4 separate regions of the Homo sapiens genome follow, and all the other regions are reported to be linked to region 1. The links are microRNA targets in miRTarBase. Many come from high-throughput screens and were not tested one by one. Region 1 holds a microRNA gene; each other region holds the end of a gene's coding sequence.
What was found. Region 1 holds the annotated microRNA hsa-miR-4711-5p (UGCAUCAGGCCAGAAGACAUGAG, at 2,493-2,515, shown strand). A microRNA usually pairs through its seed, bases 2 to 8, with sites in the 3' UTR of a target mRNA and lowers its output. Matches are read on the target gene's strand: a 7mer-m8 pairs with bases 2 to 8, a 7mer-A1 pairs with bases 2 to 7 and ends in A, and an 8mer does both.

Region 2: miRTarBase lists INSYN2B as a target of hsa-miR-4711-5p. Seed matches in the 3' UTR shown: 7mer-A1 at 4,173-4,179.
Region 3: the mRNA of MXD1 is a reported target of hsa-miR-4711-5p. The part of its 3' UTR that is shown has no 7-base or 8-base seed match.
Region 4: the mRNA of RAB23 is a reported target of hsa-miR-4711-5p. Seed matches in the 3' UTR shown: 7mer-A1 at 3,535-3,541.

Annotation. Positions count from the first base shown.
Region 1 is chr1:59,731,784-59,735,783 of GRCh38, reverse strand. It overlaps MIR4711 (microRNA 4711), which reads left to right and starts at 2,488; the gene lies at 2,488-2,557. All of the region lies in intron 14 of FGGY (FGGY carbohydrate kinase domain containing), which reads right to left.
Region 2 is chr5:169,858,583-169,867,134 of GRCh38, forward strand. INSYN2B (inhibitory synaptic factor family member 2B) reads right to left here. Exons shown (of 4, transcript NM_001129891.3): 4 at 2,721-5,877. The coding sequence ends at 5,691. All of the region lies in intron 27 of DOCK2 (dedicator of cytokinesis 2), which reads left to right. Among named protein-coding and RNA genes, the nearest start is that of INSYN2B, 120 kb to the right of the region's middle.
Region 3 is chr2:69,933,258-69,941,809 of GRCh38, forward strand. MXD1 (MAX dimerization protein 1) reads left to right here. Exons shown (of 6, transcript NM_002357.4): 4 at 2,094-2,208; 5 at 3,978-4,137; 6 at 4,840-8,552. The coding sequence ends at 5,027. It also overlaps a transcript of ASPRV1 not described here. Among named protein-coding and RNA genes, the nearest start is that of MXD1, 22 kb to the left of the region's middle. RefSeq lists an enhancer at 4,052-4,587.
Region 4 is chr6:57,184,449-57,193,000 of GRCh38, reverse strand. It overlaps RAB23 (RAB23, member RAS oncogene family), which reads left to right. Exons shown (of 7, transcript NM_016277.5): 7 at 2,401-6,009. The coding sequence ends at 2,540. It overlaps BAG2 (BAG cochaperone 2), which reads right to left. Exons shown (of 3, transcript NM_004282.4): 3 at 3,168-8,552. Among named protein-coding and RNA genes, the nearest start is that of BAG2, 16 kb to the right of the region's middle.

The DNA of each region.
Region 1 (4,000 bases):
TTTATTTTTCTATAGTACAGTTGAGACTCAGCTTACTGTGATGGCAGAAACTCTGGAGACAGAGACCTCGTTTTGAAACCTGCCTCTAATCTTACCTGTTTGTGGGTCTGAGCAGCATTCTTAATTTTGCTAAGCTCTGTCTTCCTTCATAAATAGATAAAACAGGAGTCATAGCTGCCTTGTAGAGATGGTGGGTTGAGAAGTAATCACTAATTCTTAGCTCAGTGTTTTGCAAACAGCAGGTGTCACAAATGTTGGTTACCTCTGTGCACAGTGGATTCAATGGTGAAAATGCCACAGGTCTGAGAATGCTCTCATAAGAGTGAACCAACAATACTCAGAGAAGACCACAATATCACCTGGTGTCAAAGCAAGGACTAGAACTTGGGCCTCCTGACTCCCAGGCTGTAAATCTTCCTCATGAGCTAAAGAGGTTGGAGAAAAATGGAAGGTTGGATGTGGTTCTGTGGAGACAAGATGTTAACTAAAGCAGGAAGGAGGCCTAAACCTCTTACCTCAGAGGGCTTGTCTATGGAAAAGGGATTCTCAAGGGGGCCAAGACATGTGTGCAGTCAGTGGGGTGGGGTTGGAGAGGGGGAGAGTGAAGGTTTTTGTGTGCGTATGTGTGTGTGAACGTTCTCGAATCACTGTGAGAAGTCTTCCCATCCCTCTCTCTACCCCTGCCCCACCATCACCTGGTCTTTGTGCCTTGGAGAGTGAAATTCAGAAGAACAAAAATTCTTTTAAGGTTTTTGGATATGACCAGATAGATGAGGCAAGGTTGTGTTTAATAACCTTGGAATCTTTGCTAGTTTATTTGCAGAAACCAAACTTATCTCTGCCAGGTAATTACAAAATAATCTGTCACATTAGAGGCAAGGACAGAGCATAAAAGGATCTTGTCCACAGCCCCTGGGCACCTTGGCCCCCAGGCCTTCTCTGCTCAGAAGCAGGAGGAAGAGCAGTACCACAGAGGTGAGCCCACAACCAGCTCCCGAGGCCTTCCTCTCTCTGTGGGAGGGCAGTCCCTGTCAGAGTCAGAGGGACCAGGGCCATCCCCTCCCCCAGGGGCTGCTTCAGGGCACTGAGAGGGGAGAGGAGGGTCTCGGCATTCCTCAATCACCTCATGTTAGGTTGAATGGTATGTATGTCTGTGTCTATATGCATGTATGCTTCATGTATGTCATAGCTTAGCTGAGATTCAAGGGATGCACAGGTATTAATGGCTGAAGGAGGGGGAAGCATGTGTCTAGCAGAGGAGAGGGCCATACGGAAGGACGAAAAATGACACTTGACTCACGCCTGTAATCCCAGAACTCTGGGAGGCCAAGGTGGGTGGATTGCTTGAGCCAGGAGTTCTAGATCAGTCTGGCCAATGTGGCAAAACCCCGTCTCTACAAAAAAACACAAAAAATTAGCTGGGTGTGGCGGTGCACGCCTGCGGTCCCAGCTACCTGGGAGGTGAGATGGGAGGATCACGTGAGCCCAGGAGGTCAAGGCTGCAGTGAGCTGTTATGGTACCACTGCACTCCAGTCTGGTCACCAGAGCAAGACCCTGTCTCAGAAAAGAACTTATTCATGTAACCATACAACACCTGTTCCCCAAAACCCTACTGAAATAAATAAAAAGAAAAAGAAAAGAAAACTGATACTTGAGGAATGAGAAAGGCTGTGTTGTTGGAGCAGATAAGAGTGAAGGGAAGTGTGGGTGAAACAGAACCAAGAGGCAGGCAGGGCCATACCACGCGGACCCCACAGTCTCCTTTCCAAGGGCCCTGGGAAGCCAGAGCTACTGTCACCCAAAGGCTCTGCTGAGGTCAGCAAGGGCCAGGGGACATCAAGGTGGCTCTCTTATCACCCAGATATGAGAGATGCTCAGGAGGCAGAAAACATGCTTCAGTGACAGACCAGATGAGGGTGTTAGGGAGAGAAAGTTGTTAGAAGTAACTCTTAGATTTCTGGGCTTAGGCATGTGGCCCACTTAGGGGGATGCAGAGTGAGGGTTTGTCCTTACGGCTGTGTGCACAGAGCTCCTGTTTTTAGATCTCACAGGGCTTAATTCAGGGACATGGAGTAACTGAGAAGGAGAACCTCAGCCTTGCCTTGTTCTGAGAACAGCAGCAACAAAGAAAGAAATCAAGAGAAATAATGTTGCAAAAATTCCTCACAGACAAGGCCAAAGCTTACATCAGCCAGTCATGTGGGTTTTAAGCTTGACTATTTAGTAAGAAATGAATTTGTCCTTGTAAGTGTTAGAAGATCTGGCATTTACACCTGAGATGTGAAGGTGCTTGCTTTAAAAAACAAAACAAAACAAAAAAACAAAACAAAACAAAACAAAACAACAGCATAAGTTCTGAATATCCAGTCAGGAAGTTTAAATGCAGCACTGGACAATCAATACAGAGCCTGAGGCTCAGCCCTTCCCACAGAGACATCACCCAGTTTCCCGAGGGTAGTGAGGAGGAGATGGGGCAGGGGACACAAAAATGTGCATCAGGCCAGAAGACATGAGCCCTTTGGAAAGGTCTCGTGTCTTCTGGCTTGATGCACATTTGCTAGGCTTTATGCACAGTCACCATGGCCATCTGGAAACACAGAAACTTTTATTTGGGGGTGCACAGGCCCGGGGACTCCATGAGGAGAGTGTGTAGGACGTGGACAGGGAATTCCAGGGGAGCTCAGTAGGTGTTTAAGGCTGGAAGGGAGATGGAGAGGCCTGTAAGTAGTAGTAGCGAGTAGGGAAACCTGGATTAAACTCAGGCAATCTGGCTCCAGGAGAGAAAGTCCTTTGAAGCAGAGCGAATGAACAGAAGCCAGCAGGACTGAGCAGTAACAATTACGGGGAACAGGGGGAAGGTGCATCCAGGTACTCGGGGGCCATGTGATGGGTTTTGGAATTCTGTCTAAATTCCATGGTGGAAGCTCGTCGCGGGGATTTCAGGGTGCAAGAATTGCATGTTCCTGTGACGTCTCTGGTTCCAGCAGGAAAGCAGCCGGCAGCATGAGACCAGTTAGGAGATACCGCAGTGGTCTAGGTGGGGGCGACAGTGGTCTGCATAAAGTAATCAACTAACCAACTAGCTAAGCTCCTGAATACCTTCCTTCCCTTCCCCTTTCTTGCCCCCCTTTCCTCTATCTGCTTTGGTATCTCTGACCCCCCTTTTCTCTCAGCAGAAGGTAGAGGACAGAGTGATAAGAACTCCACCCTGCTCAGTTTGCCACAACATAGACAGACTTTGCCATTCCTCATCTTCATCTCTGAGGTGCCCTCCCTGCACTTCCCCATTCAGGATCATCCTTTTCTGTGCCTGCATGCTGACAGGGAGCAGCTGCTTGTATCTAGAACAACTCCCAGCTGTTCTTCCAACTTTTCTTAAGTGTTTCTTAGTGTCAATGCCTCTAATTAGTTAAAATAGGAAGGGGGGTGGTAAACAGAGGAGCACAAGAGAGGCCTAATTTTAGCTGTAGCCAAAAGGACTTTCCCCTAAATACACTGTGATCTCAAAATACTTAGCTAAGCCCATATGTACATGGCGGGGAGAGAATTTAAAGAGCTACAGAAGTAAAATTCTCTGGTCAAATGGGACAGCTCTGCCTCTTTGTACAACTGGATTAAAGAGAAAAGGAATGAAAATAAACTGAACCCTCACTCTGTGCCAGGAACTGGACCAGATGCTTTGTGTGCGGCAACTCAGCAATTCATTTAATCCTCACAGCAACTGGATGATGACGGGACTGGTATTACCTCCATTTTACAGATGAGGAAACTGAGGCTCGGTGAGGCTGATGCTACTCTGTGCAAGATGACACAGCTAATGAGAGAGCAGGATTTAAATCTGGGTCTCTCTGGCTTAACTGTATCTAGCAAGAGGAAGATGGGGCCTCAAACCTAGGATAAACAGGGCATTGGGAAGAGAGCTTAAACAGGGATTCGGAGCAGGGGATCAGAGCCAGATTCCAGGGGATTCTGACTCTTAGAACACTCAGAGGCATCATC
Region 2 (8,552 bases), not on the chromosome of region 1:
CATACCTAGTCTTACTTCCTAAGTATATTGGGAAGCCACTGAACAGTTCTAAGTCAGAGTGTAATGTTATTCCCATCCAAATTTTGCAATGATTGCTTTGGCTGCTATGTGGAGAAGATATTTGAGAAGTGAGAGAGGGGCTGGGTACGGTGTCGTGCACCTGTAATCCCAGCACTTTGGGAGGTTGAGGCAGGAGGATTGCTTGAGCCAGGAGTTTGAGACCAGCTTGGACAACATAGCAAGGCTCAGTCTTTACAGAAAATAATTATTTTAAAAAAAACATTAGTGGGTTGTGGTGGTAAGCACCTGTAATCCCAGTTACTGGGGAGGCTGAGGTGAAAGGATTGCTGGAGCCTAGGAGTTTTAGGCTGCAGTGAGCTATGATAGTGCCACTGCACTTCAGCCTGGGTGACAGAGTGAGACCCTGTTTCAAAATATATTTAAAAAATAAGTATAAAAGAAGAGATTGCATGTGGGGAGACCTGTTGGGGAGGTTCCTGCAGAGGCCAGTTGAGAAATGAAGTGGGTTTAGAACAGGATGCCCACAGTGGAGAGGCACGCTGACCTGAGAACTTGGCTTAGTCTGGCAATGAGAGAACCAAACTCTGTGTGTTGCCAACGGATGCATCCCTGCTCTTTATGGGCTGAGAGTTCTGTAGGAGGCAGAGAGAAATTAGACATTTGCAAAACCTCAGGAGTAGGGGTGGTATGATATGGTCCATCGAAATTTAGGCTGTAAATTGGTGAAAAGAAGATGGGGAGGAAGTTGAGGTGAAAGTACTCAAAAATGGGATTATGTTCATTAAACCAGTCAAATGTGGTTTGTGCTGAATGCTGACAGTGTTGGATTAGGATTTGTCCCCCGCACTTTTTCTTGCAAGCAATGCTTGATGGGCGTAGTGATCATAAAACATCTTTGTTTCTTGGCATTTATAAAAAGAAATACATTTTTAGCATACAGCAAGTTGCCTTGAGCAGCTTAAAATGAGAGCCTTTTCAAGTGAAGGTTATATTGAGGATTCAGCTCAGCTAATGAAGGTAAGAACGGGTTTCAAGTCTAGCCTTATGCTTCCTGGAATGGCCCTGGCCCCTCACACATTCCACCCACCAACCACATTGCTCCCAACACCTACTTCCCCACAGGATTGCTATAAGCCCTTGGACAAATCATTTAGCCTTCCTTAATTGACTTGTGCTTAAAATGGAAGGGACCTGGCTCTTAAAGTCTCTTTTACCTCTAGGATATTTGATTCCACACAACAAGAATCTTTAATTCCCGGAGTGCTGTGCTGTATTTTATGTGCCCATGTGCTCTTTTGAATCATGGGCGACTTTATTACTTAACATTAACTGTCGTGGTTTCTGGTGGATCCTTCTTTTTTTTTTTTTTTTTCTTTTTTTTTTTTGAGACAGACTATTGCTCCGTCACCTAGGTTGGAGTGCAGTGGCATGGTCACAGCTAACTCCAGCCCTCTTGGGTTTAAGCTATCCTCCTGCCTCAGCCTCCTGATTAGTGGGGACCAGAGGTGTGAGCCACACTCTTGACTAATTTTTTAATTGTTTGACGGGGTCTCACTACTTTGCCCAGGTTGGTCTCAAACTCCTGAGCTCAAGCAATCCTCCTACCTTGGCTTCCCAAAGTGTTGGTATTACAGGTGTGAGCCATCGTGCCCACAGAAAGTGTTCTTCCCTTGCCCCGAGAAAAACCTGTTTCTGAAAACCACTGCAGCTTCACGGAGGTATCTTCCTTTCTCTCTCCCAATTTACTTCAATCCACAAATGACTGAATATGTGCTTGTTGAGCACCTGGCCCAATGTGTACCCTACATTGTGTTCTTGGCTGTCACTCAGTTCATTGTCAAGGCACTCTTGGGAGGCAGGGGGTATATCAGAGGAATCAGAGGCTCACAGAAACTAAGCAACTTGCTCAAGTTTATGCAGCAAAAATAAGATAGCAGACTGCTGTCAAACCCAAGACTTCTGATTCTATGTCCAGGGTTTGTTTTTGTTATTGTTTCTCTAAATTGATGTTTCCCAAAGTGGGAGACTCACTCTCCAGGTGTAAACCCAAGCTGGTTTTAGATGGTTCGTGGAGAAGGCAGGAAAAGGAATACTGAATCACATGACAGGAAAGTTGTTTTCTTTTCAATTCTCTCTCAAACATCCTGTTTAGTCAAGTAGAAAATGGGCTTGGTGTGAATGTGCCTTTCGTATGTGTTGAATATTTGCTAATCTCCCATCTTAACAGAGAGCTGGTCTCAGGCTTAGCAGCCTCAATAGCAACAGGGTTTAGCAAGAACTTAATAAGATATTTTTATTTCATATTCTATTTTTGGAACATGATATTGTTTTTCTTCACATTGGCGATATAAATTTGCCTTTTAAGGAAAAAAATTAAGGGGGAAATAAAGAAAAGTACTGGATAAATTAGAGTTCAGGTGTCTGAGTATAATGATACAAATCATGCCTGTACATCCATGGAATGAGGCTGGGAGCAGCTCTCCATTTATTCATGCTGCCTCCCTCACTCACGGGACACGCGGGGCTTCATGTGATCATCGTGACACTAAGTTCTGAATCTGCTCTTTATTTATTTCCCTTAGAAATATATAGAAGCAATTATAATGAAAGCCATACTTGCCCTTAGGACCATTGAGGTGTCCTTCTTAAGCATACATTTTATAACTGAAATCAACCCAAGCTAGTAATGGAGTCTTAAAACCTAGAAAAAATATGTAAGTTTATTGCAAAAGATAATATCCCGTTTAAAACAGTTTAGAAATTTACAAAACCTTACATCAGTACATCGTCTTTAAGAAGGTGCTCTATAGATGAGCTGGTATTAAGTTCCAAGGATAGTGAGTATGCATTTATGCATTGCTTTTTAAACTACAGAGAAAGCAGCTACATAAACTCCTGCAATTTAAGTTGATGTATTGGTCTTTTTCCTTTCAATTTTATAAAAGTAATTTTTGCTAAGTTAATATCTCTCCAGCAAACCAGATAACCTCAAGTACAGCATTTCTGTAGAATATCATGGTAGATGTTACGTAATATTTTACAAAGAAGCAGTGATTTTCACATGAATAAGTGAGTATGCAGTTTTGGTATATGTGTGTGTGGTGTTTTAAACATAGAGACGACCATTTTTGTTCATCAGGAAAATGTTTATGGAATCCTATTTCCTCATAATGATTTTAAATATCAATTTTTCAGAAGAGAACTCCTTCCCAGTTTCAGGTCAGTGGCCCAAGCAATGCGGTGTTGTGCTTTGGTGTAGAATCAGTACAGCCTTGTTTGGCTGTATTTCTAGAAATGTCAACATTTTATTTATTTTTTTCTTTTCTTTTCTTTTCTTTTTTTTTTGTTGGGGAAGTGCAGAAAATGTCAACATTTTCTAGTCCCAGTTTTATTTAATTCAGTTAAGGGTTCATGTGAGGGCCTCAACTGGAAACATATCTATGACCACATCAGCTTATTAATTTTGTGTGAGGTACCTCAAACATCTCTTTATCTTCCCAGGCTAACTTTGGCCAGTAATCCAGCTCAGCTCTGAGTCACTCAGCTCACATAATGTGGAACGTGCTAAGAGTTTATAAAGTAGGAAAGCATATGTTCTTATCTGTATTCAAGAATGGACAAACAGGCCGGGAAATTTAAGCCATTTGCCAAAGGCTAGTGGTATAGACTGCTTGGTTGCCTGGATCTCTTAATTCTGGGAACAGGGTTATTTACATTCTAGCATGATGCCCGAGAATATAAATTCACATGAAATTAGCGTAAGCAAAGCAAATTAAGATGGAAGCTCTACTACAAGATAAAATTACATAAGAGGTCCCAAATGATTTCACTTTATTGGATTATCCTCTATTCTGTTCTTTTCCATTGCTGGGGCCAACTGACAGTTGATCGTATGGATACAGGAAAAAAAAAATCTGTGGCTTTTAGCCAGTGGTAGCATATCTTATTGAAATGTGGCTTCTTAAGTATGACAAGTGTATTTATCTTAATTCTAACATGACGTTATATATTCCGGTCTGATTCTGTGGGCTTAAACATTACACTAGAAACAGAACAAGAACATCTTGAATGACATTCCAAGACTTAAATAGTGCAAGCTGATATTCCTTGCCAAATTTCCCTTTCATTCTCACTGAAATAGCTTTGTTCACTGCATCACTATGACAGGGGAAGGTGAAACCATCGGAGTGGTTTGCTCAATTAGGCTCAATTTGCAGTGGGGTAGGTACATCCCACGAACACACAGGATTCTGTGCTCTGCAAAGATTCTAGCTTAGACACTGGATCTTCAGCCAAGGGAATTACAAAATACCTTCTTCGTTTAATGTATGTTTAGTTTCAGGCTCCCTTTCTAGCAATGTCAATCTAACCACATGCTGATAGAGATTTTAATTCAACCAGAAGGAATCTGAGCCTTTCCATCCTACCCCTCATCCACAAGAGTATATAGCAATTACTTAATTATATTACTTTAGTAGTTTGTTCAGCCATGCAAGTTTGACTGGATCCACATGTATGTAGGTCTTGTCAACAGAATGAGCCAGACCTTGAATAACTCAGACTTTGGGATGGAAAGATATTTAAACCTCAAATAGAAAAAACTATATCCTCATCCATAGTCCTGCTAGTTTTTCAATCAGGTGACCATTGTCTGGTCACCAGGAAGGGAGACTGTGTCGATTAATATATGTTTGAACCTATCTACACGGCTGTTTCTGGGATGAAGGGATGAGAAACAGTGTTGTGTTTTATCTTAGCCTTATCTATGTTACTCATAAGATGTAACTGATGGACAGGTTGCTGGATCTCATGATTTTAAATATTGCAGGTAAGTTAACTATGGAGTCTTAAAGTTCACACCAAAAACAGATTCCACCCATTTGCCAGGTGGTCTCAGGCCCTAGGCAGAGAAGAAGCATGATGGTTTAGGGTGGGCCCTGGAACAGCTACAGCTGCTGAAATCCTCTTTGAATTACACTTATCCAGCACAGCCACACCAACAAGTTTATACCCTGGGGTGGCCTGACTCTGCCACAGGCAGAAAGGTGCATGCACCATGAGATGACAGAGCCTTAATTTGGGATCAAGGGGCTAATTAAAAAGGAAAACAACCCAACACACCAGGGTGATCTTGCATAAGCATTTTATGCCCTGCCCACTTCTCTTGTGCTTATTATGTATGCTGATATCTTAGAAAACTGCCAGTTTATCTCATTTTTTTCTATGGTACCTGCTTATAACCTATAACCTCCCTCTACCTTCCGGGTCTGCACAACACTATTTTTTTCTTTTGGGTTTATGAACCCAGGATGGGAAGGAAGTGCTTGGCATCTTGGAGGTGTTGGAAGGTGTAGTGTGGGGTTTTGCTCGTGGTGGGAATCTGGTCTTAAAACTCAGCATGAGTTCTGGCTGAGTGTGACAGGGAACTTGGCAAGCGGTCACTCTAGTGTCCGTGAAGCCCTCAGCAAGCAGTCGCACGCACTCAGGTAAGGATCGTGGTCAGGTGTCCAGCAGCGGCTACATCAGCTCCAAGGCTCTTCTGTTTCACAGGCCAAGGGGCTCACAGCCCAGGGCCTTTGCAAAGAAGCAGGGCAGGCCTTAAGTGCAGTGGATTTCCCATCTCAGGGAAGTGCGTGGAGTTGGGGGGCTGGGGGATGGTCCCAACCAGCTCAGATCCACCAGAAGCATTTCTTTTTCACCTTCTTGGTTTTCCGCCTTAAGTCCTGCTTTTCCGGGGCTGGGGGTTCTGCTGGGGACTTTGGTGGGGGCGATGCCTCCTCAACTGGCTCTGCTTCCTCCAGACTCTGCAAAACTTCATGGAACCTGCCTTCCTGCTGCCGAAAATCATACTCTACACTGAAAAACACAGAGAGGAAGGAAGGAAAGTGAATTCGAATCAGCACAGACTGATTAAGCATCTCTCAGCCCCAACTAATATGGAAGAGCATGAGCTTTGGGATCAAATCCTAGATCCTTAGGTACCTACTGGCTCTTTGACCTTGGGAAAGTGATGCCACCTCTCTGAACCTCTAGTTCTTCAGTGATTGAATTGGCACCTGTAATGCCTTCCTCACAGGGATGTTATTAAGGGTCAGTGAGACCTGATGGCAAGTGTTCTGTAAATATTGGCTCCAGTCTCTCTCTTAATCATTAATGGGGTTTTGGCATGTGTTATGCATGAAAACTGTCTCATTATTAAAAAATTGAGATAATGCAGAGGAACAGACAAGAAAACTGACAGCTCAGTTTCATTATCTGTAAAATGGGGGTAATAAGAGCACCTATCTCAAAGGCTTTCTTTGGAATTAATGTGTGTAAACTGAGATAATATAAATGAAATGCTCAGAGTAGTGCCTGGCGTGCGCTAAGTCCTCCGTATGTGTTAGCTTCTATTACCGCTATCATCATCATCATTAACATAATTTCTACCAATATATTACGTCTTGCTCTTTGAATTGCATCTCAACTTCAAGATATATCTTGGAGAGCTTTACATGTAAGACTGCCTTGTAGTATTCCTCAATACAGTGTATTTAAATATTCCTCTACTGATGGATGGACATTCCCAACCTCTTTTTCGTTGTTGTTGTTGTTGGCTATTTTACTTGTGTGTTTTGGTGTCATTAACATACGGACTGCATTGTCCCGTGCTGATTATCACAAACATTGAGGAGGTAAAAGTGAACCTGTCGCAGAGCAGGGGTCCCTGAGGTCAGGGGAGGTGGGCGTTGAACAGAAGCCTGGCCTGTAGGGAGTGGGTGCTGATGCTGTCTGTGACCTCTGCATGTCTGGAAGTCAGGCCAGCAGACCTCAGGGACTCTCAGCCTGCTTCCTCACTCTGGTTCACCCTCCCCAGAACCCAGAGAGCCGGGGCAGAAAAAACGAATCCTCTTAGACATCCCTGTGGGCTGAGCACGGGTTCCCTCTGTCCTTAATTGTCTTTCCTCCATGAGGAGGATTTACTTACAGAGGAGTTTTCAGTGCCAAGATGCTTATAAGAAAGCTCTTAAGCTTTTTGATGTGTTTGTTACCTGGTTTCATACCAGGGGTCTCAGAAGGCCCAAGGATGAGGAGCCAGCGTGGGAGTGTGGGAAGTGGAGGAAACGTGGTCATGAAAACAGTGCATTCTCCTTGTTTAGCCAGAAGGAAAATGAAATGTTGCATCTGGGAGACCAAAGACCCCATGTTGGTTTATGATGTGGCATGACTGGCCAGTGCCTTTATACCCAGCAAGGGCTGGAAAACAGCTGTCATTAAAGGGACATCTGCCCTTGCTTACTCTCCCCATGTCACCTCCCAGGGCCGGGGACCCGAGTTCATGCTGCTGCAAAGGCATGTTGCCGTTGCCATGCATGACGAATGGAGCCCCAAAGAGTGCCTCGTCCCTGAGCATTCTGAGATGGAAGAGGCAGGGCTGAAGAGTCAGAGGGGCGAGGGGGCCTGTTTTATAGCAAGACTGATGGGTTGTTGCAGGGCTGAAGAGTCAGAGGGGCGAGGGGGCCTGTTTTATAGCAAGACTGATGGGGTGTTAGTTCTTAGGGAGCACTAGGAAAGGGTATCTGATTGTTTTGTTTCTGCATTTTTCATCCAGGCTTGCTTCTCCTCCACTTACATGCCTTCTCTTTCTGTTCTCTCTGGCCCTCTCTATGGGGACATAATCCTGGCTGGATGACCTATAGGCCATCATTATATTAAATTAGAATTGTATTGTGGATGAAACATAGGCTGTGGTTTTTAAAGCAAAGCCCCACAGTTTCACTGTGAGATCTTGGGGAAGTCATTTCCCACTTCCAGGCTATGGTGTCCTCATCTGCAAAATGAGTAGTGCCTACGCAAAGGACCTCAGTGAAGCTTAAATGCCATGTGCATATACAACACGCAGCATAGAGTAGGCACCAAGTATCCAGTCAGTCACTCGACAAACATTTATTGAGCATCTTCTTTGTGGCAGGCCCTGTTCTGGCTGCTGAGGAAGGAATGGTAGGCAGACAATCTCCCTGGCCTCCTGGCACTGCTAATCCAGTGAATCTGTGTCCTCAGTGCTGGCATCAGTAGCTGTTAGAGACCTTCTAGCCAAAGCCCAGAATTTGCCAGGCCAGTGGGCAGAGGCATGTGCAGACTCACATACTGACTGTCTATTTCAGGAGTCTCTATTTCAGGAAAAACTCTGAAACCATGTTTTTCCTCTGCTCTCACACCACAACAACCATCAACACAGAAGAAGACTTCTATGACCAAATGTGTGGGAGTTTCTCCCCACTACCAAGCAGTGGCCACCAGTTGGGTGTCTTCCAATTCAGTTCCAGTACTATCTACCCAGAGATAGCATCAGATTCCATAGATTGGGGGCTCAATCCCACAAGACTTCCCCCCACTTACAAGTCCGGGACCTTGGAACTTCTGACTGACTAGCTTCAAGTTGGGGTTCCCAAAACCCCTTCTTTGGGTTTGATTAATTTGCTGGAGTGGTTCACAGAACTCAGGGAAACACTTCCTTACGTTTACTGGTGTATCATAAAGGATATTGCAAA
Region 3 (8,552 bases), not on the chromosome of region 1:
CAAGAAATAGACAAATTTATAAATGTATAAATTATACTTTCTCATAGTGTTTCTAATAACATGATCTATTTTCATGGCTCTTTTTGAAGAATATTATCCAAGATGAACAAGTATATTTTACATACAAGTTTTCTTCCCTTCCCTGGTCCCCACCACATGCAGTAGTGGGAGGAGCACACCTGTAACATGAGTCTTTGCTCTGACTCTGCCACATGGACAGGTTTTTCAGAAGAAGTGAAAGACTTACAAAATAGTAAAGCCCTTGTGCTATTACCTCTTCCTAGCTCAGAAATGAATGCTGTACTCCCCAAGCTTGCCAAGCCTTAGAGCACCCTTGGAGAGTTTAGGACAACTTCCTCATGACCTAGAAGAGGCAGGAGGCTCAGAAGGAAGGAAGTCTAATGCCTTGCTTACTAGCCCTGCCTTAGGGGAACATCCTGAAGTCTCCCTGGAGAGTGTGAATTGACTTCTTACATTAATATCATGCATATTCACCTGTCCTATAGCTTTCTGAAGCCATTTCCTTTCTTTGGTCTATATTTTCAACTTTTGCTATTACAGTACAATTCTTAAGAGGAAAAAGGGCAAACCTATAAGGCATTGCATTGTTTCCCAATTCAGCTGGAGGGGAGCCTCCTAGACCCCAGGGAACTCTGCTCCAAGTAGGTTGTGTGTGGGCAATGAATGTTATCTAAAACCTGAAGACTCTGAGCACTGCTGAAGGTGCAAAGATGCAGTAGAGATGGACTCTGTCCTCTAGAAGCTTAAAGTCTAGTTGAATAGATGACATAATCCATTCAGCAAACACTTATTAAGCATGTGTGTGTTTGAGGCACGGTGACAGCACAGCAATGATTAAGCTGCAATCCTGACTTTCTAAGGAGACTGCAATGAATGGTTAAGTAAGAAATATGAAACAAGTCAGGCAGTACAGTGAACTTCCCAGTGAATAATATAAACAGTTAAGTGGTGCTTAGAAAATAGAGGAATCACTGTGAGCTAGGATGGCTTGGGAAGGCTTTAAGGAGGTGGTAAGCTTAAGCAAAACCCCCAAATCTCAGCTGCTTCTTACATTCATAGAATTTTCCAGGTTCTAGAATAAAGCACAAACCATTTCAAGGAAATGTAAATTTCTCAGTTGGAGCAACTCTCGTGCTCTCTCTTCAGTCAGTTGCCGTGGCTGCTGCTTCATCCAGCCCTTCTCCCTCTCCCACTCCGTGCCATTGCATCAGTCTGACATACTCCAAGAACAAAAAGTATAAAAAATGACTCAGTAAAAACCCCCATCACTTCCTTCCTTATCTCTGTCTGACTGTTCCTTGCCTTCTCCCTGCCCAGCCAGTTTCTTATGTGTCATTCCAGAGTTTGTCTACATACAAGAAAACATGAATATAGATTCTTGTTTTCCTCCATCTTTAAGATAGCATGGTATACTCACAGTTTGGAATCTTGCTTTTCTCCACTTAACAATATATCTGGAAAATCTTTCCTAATAGGACATAAAGCACATTCTCATTCTTTTTGATAGCTACATAGTACTACACGGTGTGGATGTAGCATAATTTATTTAACCAGTTCCCTCCTGGGTGGTCATTTGGGTTGTTTCAATCTTTGCTATTACAAATAAAGCTTCAACAAATAACTCCACAGATATATATGCTCCTTGACTTATGATGGGGTTATGTCTCAAGAAGCCCATCATAAATAAAAAACATCCCAAGTCTAATATGCATTTAATACTTCAATAAACTCATTATAAATTTAAAAAATTGTAAGTTGAACCATCATGAGTCAGGGACCATTACTGTATATAGTATTTACACATGTGAATGACTATATAATAGCAGATATTATTCCCTACCCCAGCACTTGTATTATCAATAGACTTAGCTTCGAAAACCTTGGATTTTGCTTCTCATTGGTTTTCACCAGAGTTGTCTGGTTCAAAATATGTTTATTCAGCAAAAGGTCATTGGTAGCATTTGCCATCGCAAGGCCTGGGCAACTTCACACTCTTTGAGAACTCATTCTGCCTGGGGTGCTTCTGGCCCACTGTGAAACTCTCAAATGCTACTGTGGTCTTGTTTTCATAGACGGGCTCATCTTCGCTTGTGCCTGGAGAAGTTGAAGGGGCTGGTGCCACTTGGACCCGAATCAAGTCGACACACTACGTTGAGTTTATTAACAAAAGCCAAATTGCACATAAAGGTAAGTGTATTGTTGGGATGCTGCTTTATCTTTACCTGTTCAGTGAGGGTTTGTCTGTTGTTACATCTCCAGGACAGTCCTCTCCCCTGAACTCCTCCAGTCTAGCTATTGGATGAATCACAGGTACCTCAAATGCAACATATTCAAAACCCAACTGAGTGTTTCTCACTCCCATGCACCAGAGGTTAAATGGTCCATCCAACTCTCCATCCAGTTGTACAAGCCAGAAATTCAGGAGTCCGTGATAGCTCCTGCTCCTTAACCATATATCTAGGCCATCTCCAAGGCCTAAATATTTTGCAACCGGTCTACTTCCATCTTCATCCCCACTGTCTACTGCAATAAAATCCTCAGAGGTCTCCCTATATCCCTCTGGGTCCCTCCCGTCTGCTTTCCATGCTTCCTGAGAACAGTCCTTCCAAGGTGCAAATCAACACGTGACCTTGTTTAAAATTCTTCTGTGGCTCAGGACAAGCTCTGTCACCTGGTCTGCCCCAGATTCTGCCTTGCCTGGTCCTCACTTGCCTCTGCAGCACCATCTTGTTCCCCAATTCCCCTTTCTCCAGCCCTTCTTCCAGTCCCTGGCACTGTCATATTGTCTTACTTTAGGGCCTTTGTCAATGCTCTTCCCTCTGCTTGGTACACTTTCCTCTCTCTTCTTCACCTAGAGGACTTCTACTTATTCTTCAGATCACAGTGCAAGTCTCTCTAGCTCTGATAATCCTTCGCTGACTTTCCCAACTCAGTGACCTCCTTCCTGTGACAGGTGGTCCCATCACTGGGTATCTCTTAGCCCTGTCATAACTGACATTTGACAGTGGTTTGTGTGACCATTGTGTTGTCTCAATCCTTAGACTATACACCCCACGAGGGAGGGGACTGGGTCTTTGTGCTCACCTCACAGCCCCAGCACCTCCTAGGGTATCGGGCACAGAGTTGACACTCTCTTTGCTACCTGAATAGCAAAGGGTAAGGGGAATTGGATTCAAAGTCTTGAGAGCCACAGCCAAAATCCCTGTTTAGCATGTTTGTATAATCATATTATAGTTGGACAAATGTTACTTTAATTATGGTTAGAAGCCTGCATTCATGACAATTCTGGGAGAAAACCTCTATTTAAAGCAAAACAGCTACAATTAAACAATCTTCTTAATTATCTGAAGAATATGAGAAGCTGGGGGCAGATTTATAAAAATGAGTATTCTATGGAAATGTGTTTTCTAAACTCTTCTGTTGGACAAATTAGAATCAGGACATCAAAAGGGACTATTATTTCCTGCTAACAAACAGAAGTTAATTGAGATTTGGCATGACACAAAAAAGTGCTTATGTAATTGGGACATGTACTTGAATAAACATAGTTTTAAATGGAAGCGTGTTTCTTAAGCTCCCATCAAGTGCAGTTTTCTAGTCCGGAGATCAGGTGTTCAGGGGATTGCTGCAAACAAGGGAGATCAGGTTGGGGACTGCTGCCTGCAGTCTTTCTGATACTAAAACTGAGGGCTACCAGGGTGCCAGTATGTGAGAGCTCACCCCCAGAATCCCTGTGACAGGACAAGTACCCCCAGCACTGGCGATGCTGAAGAGTCAGACGAAGCCAGGAGTCACTGGCCAGTCGACTTCCTGTCTCAGGGAGAAGCTTGATGAGTGGCACCGAAAGGCGTCTGAGGAAGTGTGGCGCATTCCACTGCTAGAAGGGAAGATGCGGGGGCCATTGCCCATTTAGAGATCTCCCTGTGGGGCCCAACAACTACCCCTTTGACTTGCAGAAACTTGAAGATTGTGACAGAAAAGCCGTTCACCAAATCGACCAGCTTCAGCGAGAGCAGCGACACCTGAAGAGGCAGCTGGAGAAGCTGGGCATTGAGAGGATCCGGATGGACAGCATCGGCTCCACCGTCTCCTCGGAGCGCTCCGACTCCGACAGGGGTGAGCCTCTCTCACTCTCCTCCCTGTCTCCCTTGTGCTCCCCAACCCCAGAGCAGGGGTTCAGTACTGCGGACAGGAGGCAGAGTGTAAGAAGAACTAAGACACTGGGTATGATGTAGAGAAGTCGAACAGTGTGACCTCCAGTGACAGGTTCCTTCTCCCTGCTAACACTTAGGTGACAACCCCAGAAGAGTTTGATTGGTGTCAGTTTTCAGCCTAGTTTGTTTTGTTTTGTTTTGAGACGGAATCTTGCTCTGTCACCCAGGCTGGAGTGCAGTGGTGTGATCTTGGCTCACTGCAACCTCCGCCTCCCGGGTTCAAGCGATTCCCCTGCCTAAGCCTCCCAAGCAGCTGGGATTACAGGCACACACCACAATGCCTGGCAAATTTTCCTATTTTTGTAGAGATGAGGTTTCACCATATTGGCCAGGCTGGTCTCGAACTCCTGACCTCAAGTAATTCACCCACCTTGGCCTCCCAAAGTGCTGGGATTACAGGCGTGAGCCACCACACCCAGCCAAATTTTTGTATTAGTAGAAACAGGGTTTCACTGTGTTGGCCCAGCTGGTCTCAAACTCCTAACCTCAAGTGATCCACCCGCCTTTGCCTCCCAAAGTGCTGGGATTACAAGCATGAGCCACCACGCCTGAGCTTTCTGCAGAGCGCTTTCATCAATGTCCTTCTCTCTTGTCCTCCCTGCAGAAGAAATCGACGTTGACGTGGAGAGCACGGACTATCTCACAGGTGATCTGGACTGGAGCAGCAGCAGTGTGAGCGACTCTGACGAGCGGGGCAGCATGCAGAGCCTCGGCAGTGATGAGGGCTATTCCAGCACCAGCATCAAGAGAATAAAGCTGCAGGACAGTCACAAGGCGTGTCTTGGTCTCTAAGAGAGTGGGCACTGCGGCTGTCTCCTTGAAGGTTCTCCCTGTTGGTTCTGATTAGGTAACGTATTGGACCTGCCCACAACTCCCTTGCACGTAAACTTCAGTGTCCCACCTTGACCAAAATCAGCTTTGTAACTGTTTTCAAGGAGGTGCTTAGGATTGTGGGTTTCTGATTGCATCCACTAGCTTCTCTTTTTCTCGCCATAAAAATTTGTCTCTGAGAGACTATACATTCCAATCAATTTGAAGCATCCAAGAATTCTTAGACCGAATAAGCAATGTCCACATCTCAGCAATCCCCCTCTTTGCTCTCCTCGTGTCCTCTCCCAGACCTTTCTTCCAGTTTTCTGGCTTACTGTGTTACTTGCCTAGGAGGAATGTCCAAGTGTGTCTTGTACTTAGGAAACTGAAGGAAACAAACTTTTGAAATTGAGATCCTGATCTCAGAACTCCAAAGTAAGCTTTGAAAGCAGCATTTAAGAGCACTTAACCATGGACCTCACCACCAGTGAGGAAGTCAGGAATACCTCTAGAAAACACGCCCTTCACACCGCGCATGCTCATTCCCCCGACGCGCCGCGTGTGGATGGGAGCAGTATTTCTCACTTTAAAATGGACACCTTGATAGTGTGTCTCTGGGGTTGCACAGCTCATCAAAGTTCCAAATTGTTTGTTCTCACAAACAAAACGGTACAATCTATTTTTGTGCGATGTTCTTGGGACCTCGCTGTGTTCTGCTATCTCGAGGCACATTCTCCCCTCCAACTTTGTTAATGCTACTTGTCTCTGGAACATTTTTTTTTCCTACCTCAGAGATAAATGAGATCTCCATTTCCCACTTAACACAGTGATTATCCTTTTTTCCCCCCCCAAAATAGTGACATTTGGTCCAATTATAATCTATTTTCCTATTGAACTTTCAGCAATAACTGAGCTGTGGCACTAGCAGAGCTAGTAGCCATTATCAGTGAAAGAAAAAGTCCACATTTCTACTCTCTGTTGCAGGTGAACAGGAGAGGATGGTACACTGTTACTAGAACTCCTCTCCTTATTGATTATTTTTGGACACACCCAGAAACTTCTTTATGGAGGCTTTTGGGTTGATAGTTTAAAAGGCTGATTTTTCTTTTTGGTTATGATTTCTCCCTTAAGTGGTCTCCGACTTTGTAGCATTTTTATTTAAGCTAAAACAGAGCACATGTATATGTACATAAGACACATTAAATCTATAAATACTATTTATTCATTTTATATAAACTAATGTAATGGAAAACAAATTCTTATGACTTTGTGGTTTTATAGATGTTCTAGAAACTTTGTATGTAGGTATCTACAAAATTAGTTCATTCCCCTGAATATTTTTGCATTCATATTTTTGAGGTCTTGATGTTTTCAGCCTCTGGCGAATCTTTTTCATTGAATTTGAACCATTTGTAAAATCTGTGATGCTGAAGCAGAGTGTGTCACAAAGTGATGAGAACATTACTAAAATCCACGGACGCACTGCGACCTAAGGGCTCAACGGCTGACTCGGCAGCGGGCAGCCACCCCACGCTCCCCTGCGGTCACTCGCACACCACAGCCTGAAGCTCCCCCAGCGCCTGCACCTCGCACACAGCTAAGGTCAAAGTTCAAACGCACTCCACACGGAAGCTCATTCTATACCCGAAGAGCAGTCTCAGAAAGCAAGATTACTTTTGTGTTTTTTAAAAAATGATTCTTTAATGTATTTTTCTAAACATTCTGATTGGAAGTAGTGGATTCCTAAATGATTCCAAAGTCACCTGTAATTCTTCTGTTTTTGTTTTGTTCTGTCTTTTCTTCATTTTGGCTTTGGGTGGGGGGAGGGGCAGGTGACACAAAGGATTTTTTTTTTTTTTTTTTAATTTTTGGAATCTTTTCCAATAACCAGCTAAAGATTTGCACTGAAATACAACTTGTATGCCTTTTGCATTTTTAAAGCCTGCTTCCTGGATTTAAGCAGAGTGATAGTGTTCAAAGAGCCAGTTCAGCCTGTAACATATTTGAAAAAGATATGTCTGCACTTTGAGGTCCCTTTTGAATGCCATTCACTAGACCTCTCAAGCATTTTGTTTCATTGCTACATCCAAGCGCCTCACAAGTCCACAATGCGGGACAGCATCAAAAGCTCAAGACTTTGGAAAAAGCTTGTGGGCTTGCACTGGGGGAGGGAAGGGAACAAAATTTGTGTACTTCTTTGTTTAATTTAGAAATAAGGCATCCAAGAGATGCCATTATTTTCTGTGTTTCAATTGTTGTGCCTTTGAGTTAAACTGCATTTTTGTCTTTTGGTTGAAATCTGAAATGTACTGTCCCAATATAAAACAGTAATTATTTGACCTTTGCACTGTTTGTCTGGTCCTTTTCAGTTTGATTGCATATAAATGTGGAACTTGATAGATCTCTATATTTTTAATGCACTTGTGATAAACTGGCAGCAGGGTTAGACATTACTTTCAAAGCTTGAGGTAGACCGAGTCAGCATGCTAGACAGGCTTCTCTCTCTAACCAAAACTGTAATCTTCAGGACCAGCAAACTCAGCCCAAGGCAGCTAATCCCCCCAACCCCATCCTCCGCGCCCCGTGCGGCTGATCGGCAGCCCTGATTCGCCAATTTGTCCTCTCTCATTCACTGATCCACCAGCCTGACTGCTAAGAGCTATAGTCTTTTTAGTTGTTTTGTCTTTTTAAGCAAGATGAAAACCTTTCTATTAGGGATTTTGGGGTTGGGAGGGGATGGGCAGAGATATAAACCCCAGCCTTTAAGACTTTGACAATTGTACGTAAATACAGATGTGTATAAATATAGGCACATGCATATTTTTATGTGAAAGTTGATTTTAAAAAACTAAAAAAATCTAAACTGCACTCTTATTGATACCATCATAACGCAAGTGGGAAAAATAAGAGTACGCAGTCTAATTTAATTTCATGCAGTGGGAAAATATATATGTGTGCTTCTGTAACATCCTGAAAACATAGCTTTCCATCCCCTGTTGGCTTTGAATGGTGGGCCGAGCACCCAGGTCGTCTGTATTTTGGTTTTCTTTTGCTAAGCAGAGATCTTGAATTCTTCAAGGTGCTGATAGCAACTGCTGGCTCCTTTCTGTAGTCACACACCTAATGCTAGTTTAGTGATTCAAAATGCATCACATTTTTAGGCAGGACCTAGATTTTCCCTGTCAACCTAAGATGAAAATAATTTCAGTGTTGATTCAGAACTGAACATTAAGTAGGCCCTCGTCCTGCAGTTGGCCACTTGAGTGTTTTGTTTTGTTTTTATTTTTTAAGGTGGGCATTTTCCTTTAACCTCTACTTTTTCAAAAGCAACAAAGGGGCCTCAACCTGAGTTTCCTATGGGCCTCTCTTCTGCATCCCCAAAGCGGCCAAGAGCAAATCCTGGGGGATAAGAAAAAAGTGTAAACTAGGTAGGATTGTGATGCTCAAAATAACCATCTAGCAATATCTTGGAGCTTGAGAATAGATTTTGTGGGCTTATTTCTTCTT
Region 4 (8,552 bases), not on the chromosome of region 1:
GGTGGTTTTGCCCTTCCTTCTGTGTAGCCTCCTGCCACACCATTACATCTATGTAACCCATTTACTGGTTCTCTCAGAGGTCTTGATCTTTCCTGAGTATGCCCCATGCTTGCTTTCTTCTTCACTTTTGGTCATTTTTTTTCTTCTATTGAGAATGACCTCTTTCCCATCTTCTGTCGAAGAACAATTCATTCCTCAAGGCCTTTCTAGAAAGTTTTCAGTTGTGTATCTGCCTGCCTGAAGACACATCCTCCATACTCTTTTTCTTTCTTTTTTAAAGAAACAGAGTCTCACTGTGTTGTCCAGGCTGGTCTTGAACTCCTGGGCTCAAGTGATCCTCCTGTCTCGGCTTCCCAAAGGGTTGGGATTATAGGTGTGAGCCACTGCCCAGCCTCCATCTTCTAAAAGAATAGACATCTAAGCCCAGGGCACTGCCAAGTGTCCAGTTCTACCTTCTTCATGTAGTTTTTCCTTTCTTATGTATCAGATGCAATCTGTCCTTCCTTTGAAACTTCTGTAAGATTTTGTGTCTCTTTTATGACACTTAACATATAATGTCATATGGCATTACTTGTTTACTGTCTTGTCTTATTACATTGTAAACTTCTTGTGGGCGAGAACTGGTCTTAGTCACCTTTGTATCCCTGACAGTATCTCTGGCCCAGAATTTTGTGTGTCATGGATGCTATATCATAAATTGGAGATTACATTTTGTGAATAGCACAGTTCAAAATGGAAACTATAAAGTTCTTTATCTTTTAGCTACTCATCACTTTTATCTGTGGGCCACTTTTTTACTGGTTTAGTATAAGTAGGAAAAACGTATCTTACTAGTATTAACACAGAATCTCACAAATAGCTGGGTGTGGTTGCTTGTGCCTATAATCCCAGCTATTTGGGAGGTTGAAGCAGGAGGATTGCTTGAGGCCGACAGTTTGAGACCAACTTAGACAACATAGCAATATCCTGTCTCTTAAAAAAAAAAAGAAAAATTAGCTGATGGCATTCCTGTGCCTGTAGTCCCAGTTACTCAGGAGGCTGAGGCAGGACTGCTGGAGCCCAGGAGTTAAAGGCTGCAATGAGCTATGATTGCACCACTGCACTCCAGCCTGGTGACAGAGCAAGACCCTATCTCTTAAAACACACACACACACACAACTCAGAAATACTGTTGTTACTGTTGTTAACTAAAAGGTATTCTTGAGGAAGTGATATGATGTGAAGTTAGTAAGTTATTAAAATTATCGTAGTTGCCAGGTGTGGTGGCTCATGCCTGTAATCCTAGCACACCTCTAATCCCAGGCAGGTGGATTGCCTGAGCTTAGGACTTTGAGACCAGCCTGGGTAACACGGTGAAAGCCCGTCTCTACTAAAATATGAAAAATTAGCCGGGCGTGGCGGCAGGCGGCTGTAGTCCCAGCTACTCGGGAGGCTGAGGCAGGAGAATCAATTGACTCCAAGAGGCGGAAGTTGCGGTGAGCCAAAATCACACAACTGCACTCCAGCCTGGCGACAGAGCGAGACTCCGTCTTCAAAAAATAAATAAATAAAAATTATCGTATTTGCTGATTCCAAACGTCAAAGATAAATTGTTAAGTCAAAAGATGCAGAACATTGTGTAGAATATGCCACAACTTAGGTAGAAAAGAGAATATATATGCATTTTAGCTTATATATGCATAAACTATATCTGGAAGGATAAGTAGGAAAAGTAATAACATGCGTACCTTAGGGGTGGGAAAACTGGCAAGGGGTGAAAATCTGGGTAAAAAAGAGCCCTAATGTGACCTCTTTTACAGCCTTGGAACTTTGTACCATGCGTATTAGCTACTAAAAGTAAAACTAAAACAAGAGCTTTAAAATCATAAATCTGTGTCCATTGATGTATGAAAGGATAAGCAAAATGTGGTATATACATACAATGGAATATTATTCACCCTTAAAAAGGAAGGAAATGCTTCAGTGTTCTACGTTGGATGAACCTTGAAGACATTATGCTAAATGAAATAAGTCAGTCCCAAAAAGACACTATTATTCCATTTATATAAGGTAGAGTAGTTAAAATCATAAGAGACAGAAGATAGAATGGTGGTTGCTAAGGTCTGCAGGGAGGGGGAATGGGGAGTTAGTTACTGTTTAATGGGTATGAGTTTCAGTTTTAAAGATGAAAAGAGTTATGGAGATGGACGGGGGTGATTGTTCCACAACATTACAAATGTATTTAATACCACTGAACCGTATGCCTAAAAATGGTTAAGATGCTAAATTTTGTTGGATTTTACTACAATTTTAGAGAAACTGTAAATACTTGAAAATATTACTGATTTTACTAACAAGCTGGATGCAACAGGTAACTCAGGCGTGTCAGTGGCAATCACTCTTTTCCCTCAATTTATACAGGTGTCTTTAATACATCTGGTGGAAGTCACTCCGGTCAGAATTCAGGTACCCTCAATGGTGGAGATGTCATCAATCTTAGACCCAACAAACAAAGGACCAAGAAAAACAGAAATCCTTTTAGCAGCTGTAGCATACCCTAAGATGTTTTGGGAGGAAAACAATTGAATTACATTGTGCAATGCATTAAGAAACCCATCCAGCTGTCATGGTATGTTACAAGGTTTTCAGCAGACTTTGCTCCTAATGGCTCTCTGAAAGTGACAGACTTAAATATTGCTCTGCAGTGCTTTTCAGAATGTAGAGTGAGACCTCTGGTGGAAAAATTATTGCCCTGTGGACTCCTTTAATTTTTTTTACATTAGACGAAGCTTCTCCTGTTTGTAAAGGAATGCTATAAGAAATTTCAAACACAGGTTTTGCGGAATTTTAAATGCTGGAAAACATAAATGAAATGCCTAAATATATTGTTACAGATTTTAATACTGTGGATCAAGGAAAGATAGCAAGCATTCTTTTCCTGAAATTGGTCATGTAGCTTTTCTGCGAAATAGTATTGAATCTGAATACTTTCACAAAATAATACTGAAAGGTAAACCCTAAATCTTGCCAGACTGCATTAGTATTTTGGCATTGAAACTTGTGCAATATCTGTGTAATGTAGAATGTGGGGTGTGCATGCAGATGTCTGGTACTGGAGTAAGCTGAAGGTATGTGCAGTATTTAAGAAAATGTACATTCTAATTAATTCACTTATAAAACCATTTACATATTGTGTATATGTTTTTATTTTCAAATGATAAACTCTAGACATATATTTTGCAAAATGAGCTTGGGTTTAAAAAGTGCTTTGTGCCAAAAATATCATACCTAATTTTTATAGTGCTTTACTATCAGAATTTATATTGTTTATTATATCTTTTAAAAGCAGTAAGCAGTTTTCATCTGACAGCGTAGATAAAAGAGGAGTATAGGAATTTGAATGCTAGAGCATCTCCCAGGTGAGCCTTATTGCAGATCTTTTTGATATAGTCACCCATAAGCATGGTGAGCTCCTGCTCTCATAAGGTCAGCCAAAGCCCCTTAAGAAGGTACACAGCACATCTGCAGTCATTCAGGAGGTCCTGTGAAGTGTGGTGATGCATCTAACACCTTTTGCTGCTCACTGAGAACCCAGCTTTGAACTTACAAGATTACACTAACCATTTTTAAAGTGCACAAAAATATTATTATTAGTCTTAACTAAAATTACATATTTTATAATGCCCTGCAACTCTAAACCATCCTTTTGTTTACACATTTTTGTATGGTATTTTAAGATTATCAATCACTTCAACATTTCTATAACCTTGTTTGTATAGCACTTTCTCAAGAGCTGTCAGTCCCACATACAGAATCATTTCTTTTACAAAATGATTTAATATGTAATCATGTGTCAGGACATAAATTTTGTCACTTGGGACAGTAGCTTTCCAGCTAAGATAATTGCGTGAACTCTGTTAAAACTGATTATCACTCATCAATGGCTTTATTTTTAACCTATAAATAACCCCTTTCAATATACCTGGTTTTTACAGCATTGCAAAATCTGTAAAAATAACTTTTATTGGAAAATGTCATGAAGTCATTTTTCATTATTTGTACTAAACAATGTTTTATGTACTCCTTTTGTGTTTTATCTTTTGTTTTTCCATCTGTACTCCCCTCATCCTCCTAATGTTGAGAAAATCAAATTTCCTGGGTGTGTCCTTGTTAAGTGATCAAAAGTAAATGTTCTCTTTGCCATTTTAGATGGAAAAATAAAAAAAATTAAAAAGTAAATTTTTGCTTTTCATTATATTGAAATGATCTGGCATTATCTATTTCACAGTAATGTAAAATGCTTATTTTTATGTCACCAGTTGTCACCACTCCCATTGCTGATAGTGACATAGGTTTTGGGGGCAAAATTCAGTTCCTAACAAACAGTGGATACTGCTAATGAGTCATCTTTTCTACTCTCTTCAATTTTCTACTCTCTACTCTCCTCTTTAATTTTTGCACAAAATAATACTTTGCAACAAATAGTCTTTTGTCTTTATTGGCAGAAAAATCACTTGTTATATGTGTTCTAGTTAGTTCTTTTTCATGTTAGCTGTGTGGCTAAAAGCGTGTTACCTTTCTATATTTAAAAAAAGTAATCTCTGAGGATAGTTACAGTTCCTGTAATATAATTTTATGTACCTAGTTTTATCTTTTTTTAAATAAGAACTGAAGAGAGAGCTTTGTTACATATTTGAATTTTTAATTTGCACTGCTGTATTTTAAACCTAACCATAATTAGTCATTTAAAATAATTAAGTAGGCCTGAAAGTCAGCCATGTTAATTTCTCAATTTAATCAATTCTTAAAGCCTTCAAAAATTGACATTTTTTTTCCAAGACCCTTCATTCTCTTAAATAACTTTAATTTTATGAAACCATGTATACTAAAGAAAAACTTTTCCAAGATTCCAGGTGATTGTGCATTTGTGCTCTAATCTACTTTTTTAACATTACGGCTAATCTTTTGCGTAGACATATCGCTGTGGAATAACTGCCATATTTCAGAGTTCCTCAGGTTTCCTTTTCCTTTTCCAGTCTCTGTCTATGAATTAAATAGTATATAGAATGACCCATATAAGGCAATATAGTTAAATAAAACCAGGTTAAATGATTTCCTTTGTATCTGCCCAAAGTTGATAGCACACGTTACTTTTTCAAAATAAAGCTAAAACTACCAAAAAGAGGATGAAAACTTTTTCCTCATTATGGAGTGAAGTTCTAGGTGGTTGCTTTAGAAGTTGGCAGTGCAGTGCTCAGAAGGAACTCTCAATAAATAACATGTACTCCTTGGACCTGTGAGTTTTAGGAAACTGGACCTTTTCTGAAGACCTTAGAATAGGGAGTTGGCCTTAGGACCTAATGTCCCAACTTAGTGTTGGACCCTTTTAATATAAGATATTGTTAATTATTAGCATACTTTTCAAAACCTTTGAAATAGTTACTGCTAACCTGATAAAATGTTCCCATTAATCTATCATTAGTCTGTTTCTCTGAAAACAAAATGCATTGATGAGGTGAAAGCTTGTTCCACATGGCACCTACCTAATGAACAGGACTTACTCAGTTTTTAACTGTTAAGAATGTCACATGTACTATTGTCACTCCTTAGGTTTTCAGCTATAAAACATGTAAGTCTCTCATCATACAGATGAATTCATTTGCTAACAAAATATTTAAAACCCGCAGTAGACTCTGAAATATCCAGTCATCAAACTCCTGGCTAACTGGATGATTTGGCTATAATAATCTTTATTATTATTATTTTCATCTGTCTCTCGAAATATCTACAGTAGGATGTTAGTAAATGGTCTTTTAAAAGCAAAAAATTGGGGATAAAAGGAAAACTGAATTCCTTCTATATTTTTATTACTAATAAATAATGCTTTTGTAAATTTGAATGGAAAACCACTTGTATGTATTGCTATTTGGTTGCAGTTACACTCTGGAGCTTAATTTAAAACACTACTCTAAAAATTTCATGAAGGATGAATTCCAATAATCAGAAAATAAATGCATTTCAAAGCTAAAATTTTGTGTGATATGTATGATTGTATCAACAGTGTGGATCTAAATAGTAAAATATATAATGCAACTTCTTTAAAGATCAAAGCAACCTAAAATTATTTCATATTTCAGATACTCTGCCAATATTTAATACTCTCATTTTATTGAAAGTAGTGCTAACAAGGAATGGCAGGAGGGCTACCCTAAAATTATGTATTATATGCTAGGAATGGTAGAGAATTGAGATACAGCAAAACATACTCTATATCCACTTATAGTCTATATAAAAGACAATAGTTTAAATGAGGGTAAAAATGTGACTCAGGAGATTCATCATCATTTGAAAATAAATTATACTCCCATTCTTATAAATAAAAATACATGTTAAGAACCAACCCATTGGCCAAGCGTGGTGGCTCATGCCTGTAATCCCTGTACTTTGGGAGGCCAAGGCAGGCAGATCACAAGGTCAGGAGTTTGAGACCAGCCTGGCCAATATGGTGAAACCCCATGTCTACTAAAAATACAAAAATTTAGCCGGGCGTGGTGGTGGGCGCCTGTAGTCCCAACTACTAGGGAGGCTGAGGCAGGAGAATCGCTTGAACCCGGGAGGTGGAGGTTGCAGTGAGCTGAGATCACACCACTGCACTCCAGCCTGGGCAACAGAGCAAGACTCCATCTCAGAAAAGAAAAAATGAAACCTCATGAAGTAAATGAAACTATAGAAACTGCCTCCATAGCATATATTCAACACCAAACGTCTACAAAATGTTTGTTCTCTTCCCTTCACAGTCTCTTTTCCCTAACTCATATACTCCATAGTGTTCCTTGCTACAGTGGATATGTCTTCTACTTGTCAGACAGCCTGGGTGACAGAGCAAGACTCCAAAACAAAAAACAAAAAAACAAAAAACCACACTGGAGATTCCCTGCCCTTTAGATGTGGCTCTAGGTACAGAATGCTGGAGACACTGTAAACCAGGGACCCCAAGCAGCTTGGAAATGTGGATCATAGCTCTTCAAGTCTGTGATCAGAAATCAATGACCTCCATTAAAAACTCCATTGCAAAAAAATGGGAAAAATAATGCTAAGAATACCAAGGTCAAGGAGGCAGAGCCAGAATAATTTGTGTAGAAAAAGTCCTGGACTGATGTGGAAGCCATGGGAAGCAGGGAGCAGTAGTATTTCCCAGAGTGGAAGGGATTTACGGATGCTGACAATACTTGAGAACCTGAAGAAAACATGACTATCCATTTCTTAATTTTCAAAAAGCTGGTCAAGAAAAAAATGATGCACACAAAAAATCATCTCACAGTCTGATGACAGCAAATCAGTCTGCTAACAAACCAAGTGGCTCTGCCATAGATAGAATTAATGTTTCCCATGAAATGCAAAGATTTAAATAAGGCAGAGTTGGAGCTGGCAAAGGAAGTAACATGAATGTCTTCAGATTGTAACTGCTTTTTATAAAGAGACTAACTTGGCATTTTTGTAGAGAAAATGAAGTTTGATATTGCTTGCATTGAGAGATATATACATACATAAAGTCAGTTTGGATCTTGATTTGGTTTTTCAGTGTGAAGAATACCTACATTCAAATAAAAATTGATGTGTTCATTTCAAAATAGTATCCAGGGAAGTTGTTGTGGTTTTTGTATATCAATAGGACTAGTTACTTTGAACAAATAAGTGTTCTCTAGTTGCTTCACACTTTATCAGATAAAAGAAGAATCAACACACTGGTCAACCTTTTTAGTAAACAAAATGCAAACTAGGTATTAATGCTCAGTGCTGGAAATATTTCAGTGAAATAGCTATATTTTAATTACTGAAAAAAGTATAAATTGCTGTAACCTTTATACAAAAAAAGTTTAATATGTGTGAGGCCATGAAAACGTCTATATCCTTTGACCCAATATAATTCACTGCTGGGCCTTTATACAGAGAAAAACAAAAATGAAAGAAGGAAAAAGTCCTGTGTACAAAAATATGTTGCAGTAATAGCAACAAGTTGGAAACAACCTAAATGTCCATAAAAGAGGAATGGATAAAGATATAACTACACAAAATAGAGCTCATTAAGTTGACAATTAAGCAGACTTTATATCAGCATCTAACTTTTTTAAAAAAAGGCAAGTTACAATATAGGAATTTTAGAGAATTGATGCATTTGAGAAAAGATGAAGCAGATAGATATATAATTGTTCACAGTGGTAAATTATAGGTGGTTTTCTCACATTTTATGTCAGTTTCTTGTATATCAAAAAATACATTCATATTATGAGACACAGGAATCTTTACATCCAAAATAATTTGATACAGATGCCTTAACATTGCTGAATGAGACAACTTTGGAAAGATTCTTGTTTTGTGATTCCTTTTTACCCTCTAAGCACAGTGCTTTGTTAACACTGTGTGTGTAGTAAATGTGTGTGCTGCTTAAGGTAAAGAATTTCTAGTAAACTAAATGCCCAAGGTGACTGCGTGATTCCATGCCAGACAGGAAAAAGCAGTCATGCTTTTTGCCCCTAGCTGAACGTTTGTTTTCCCCACAAACTATGTATTCA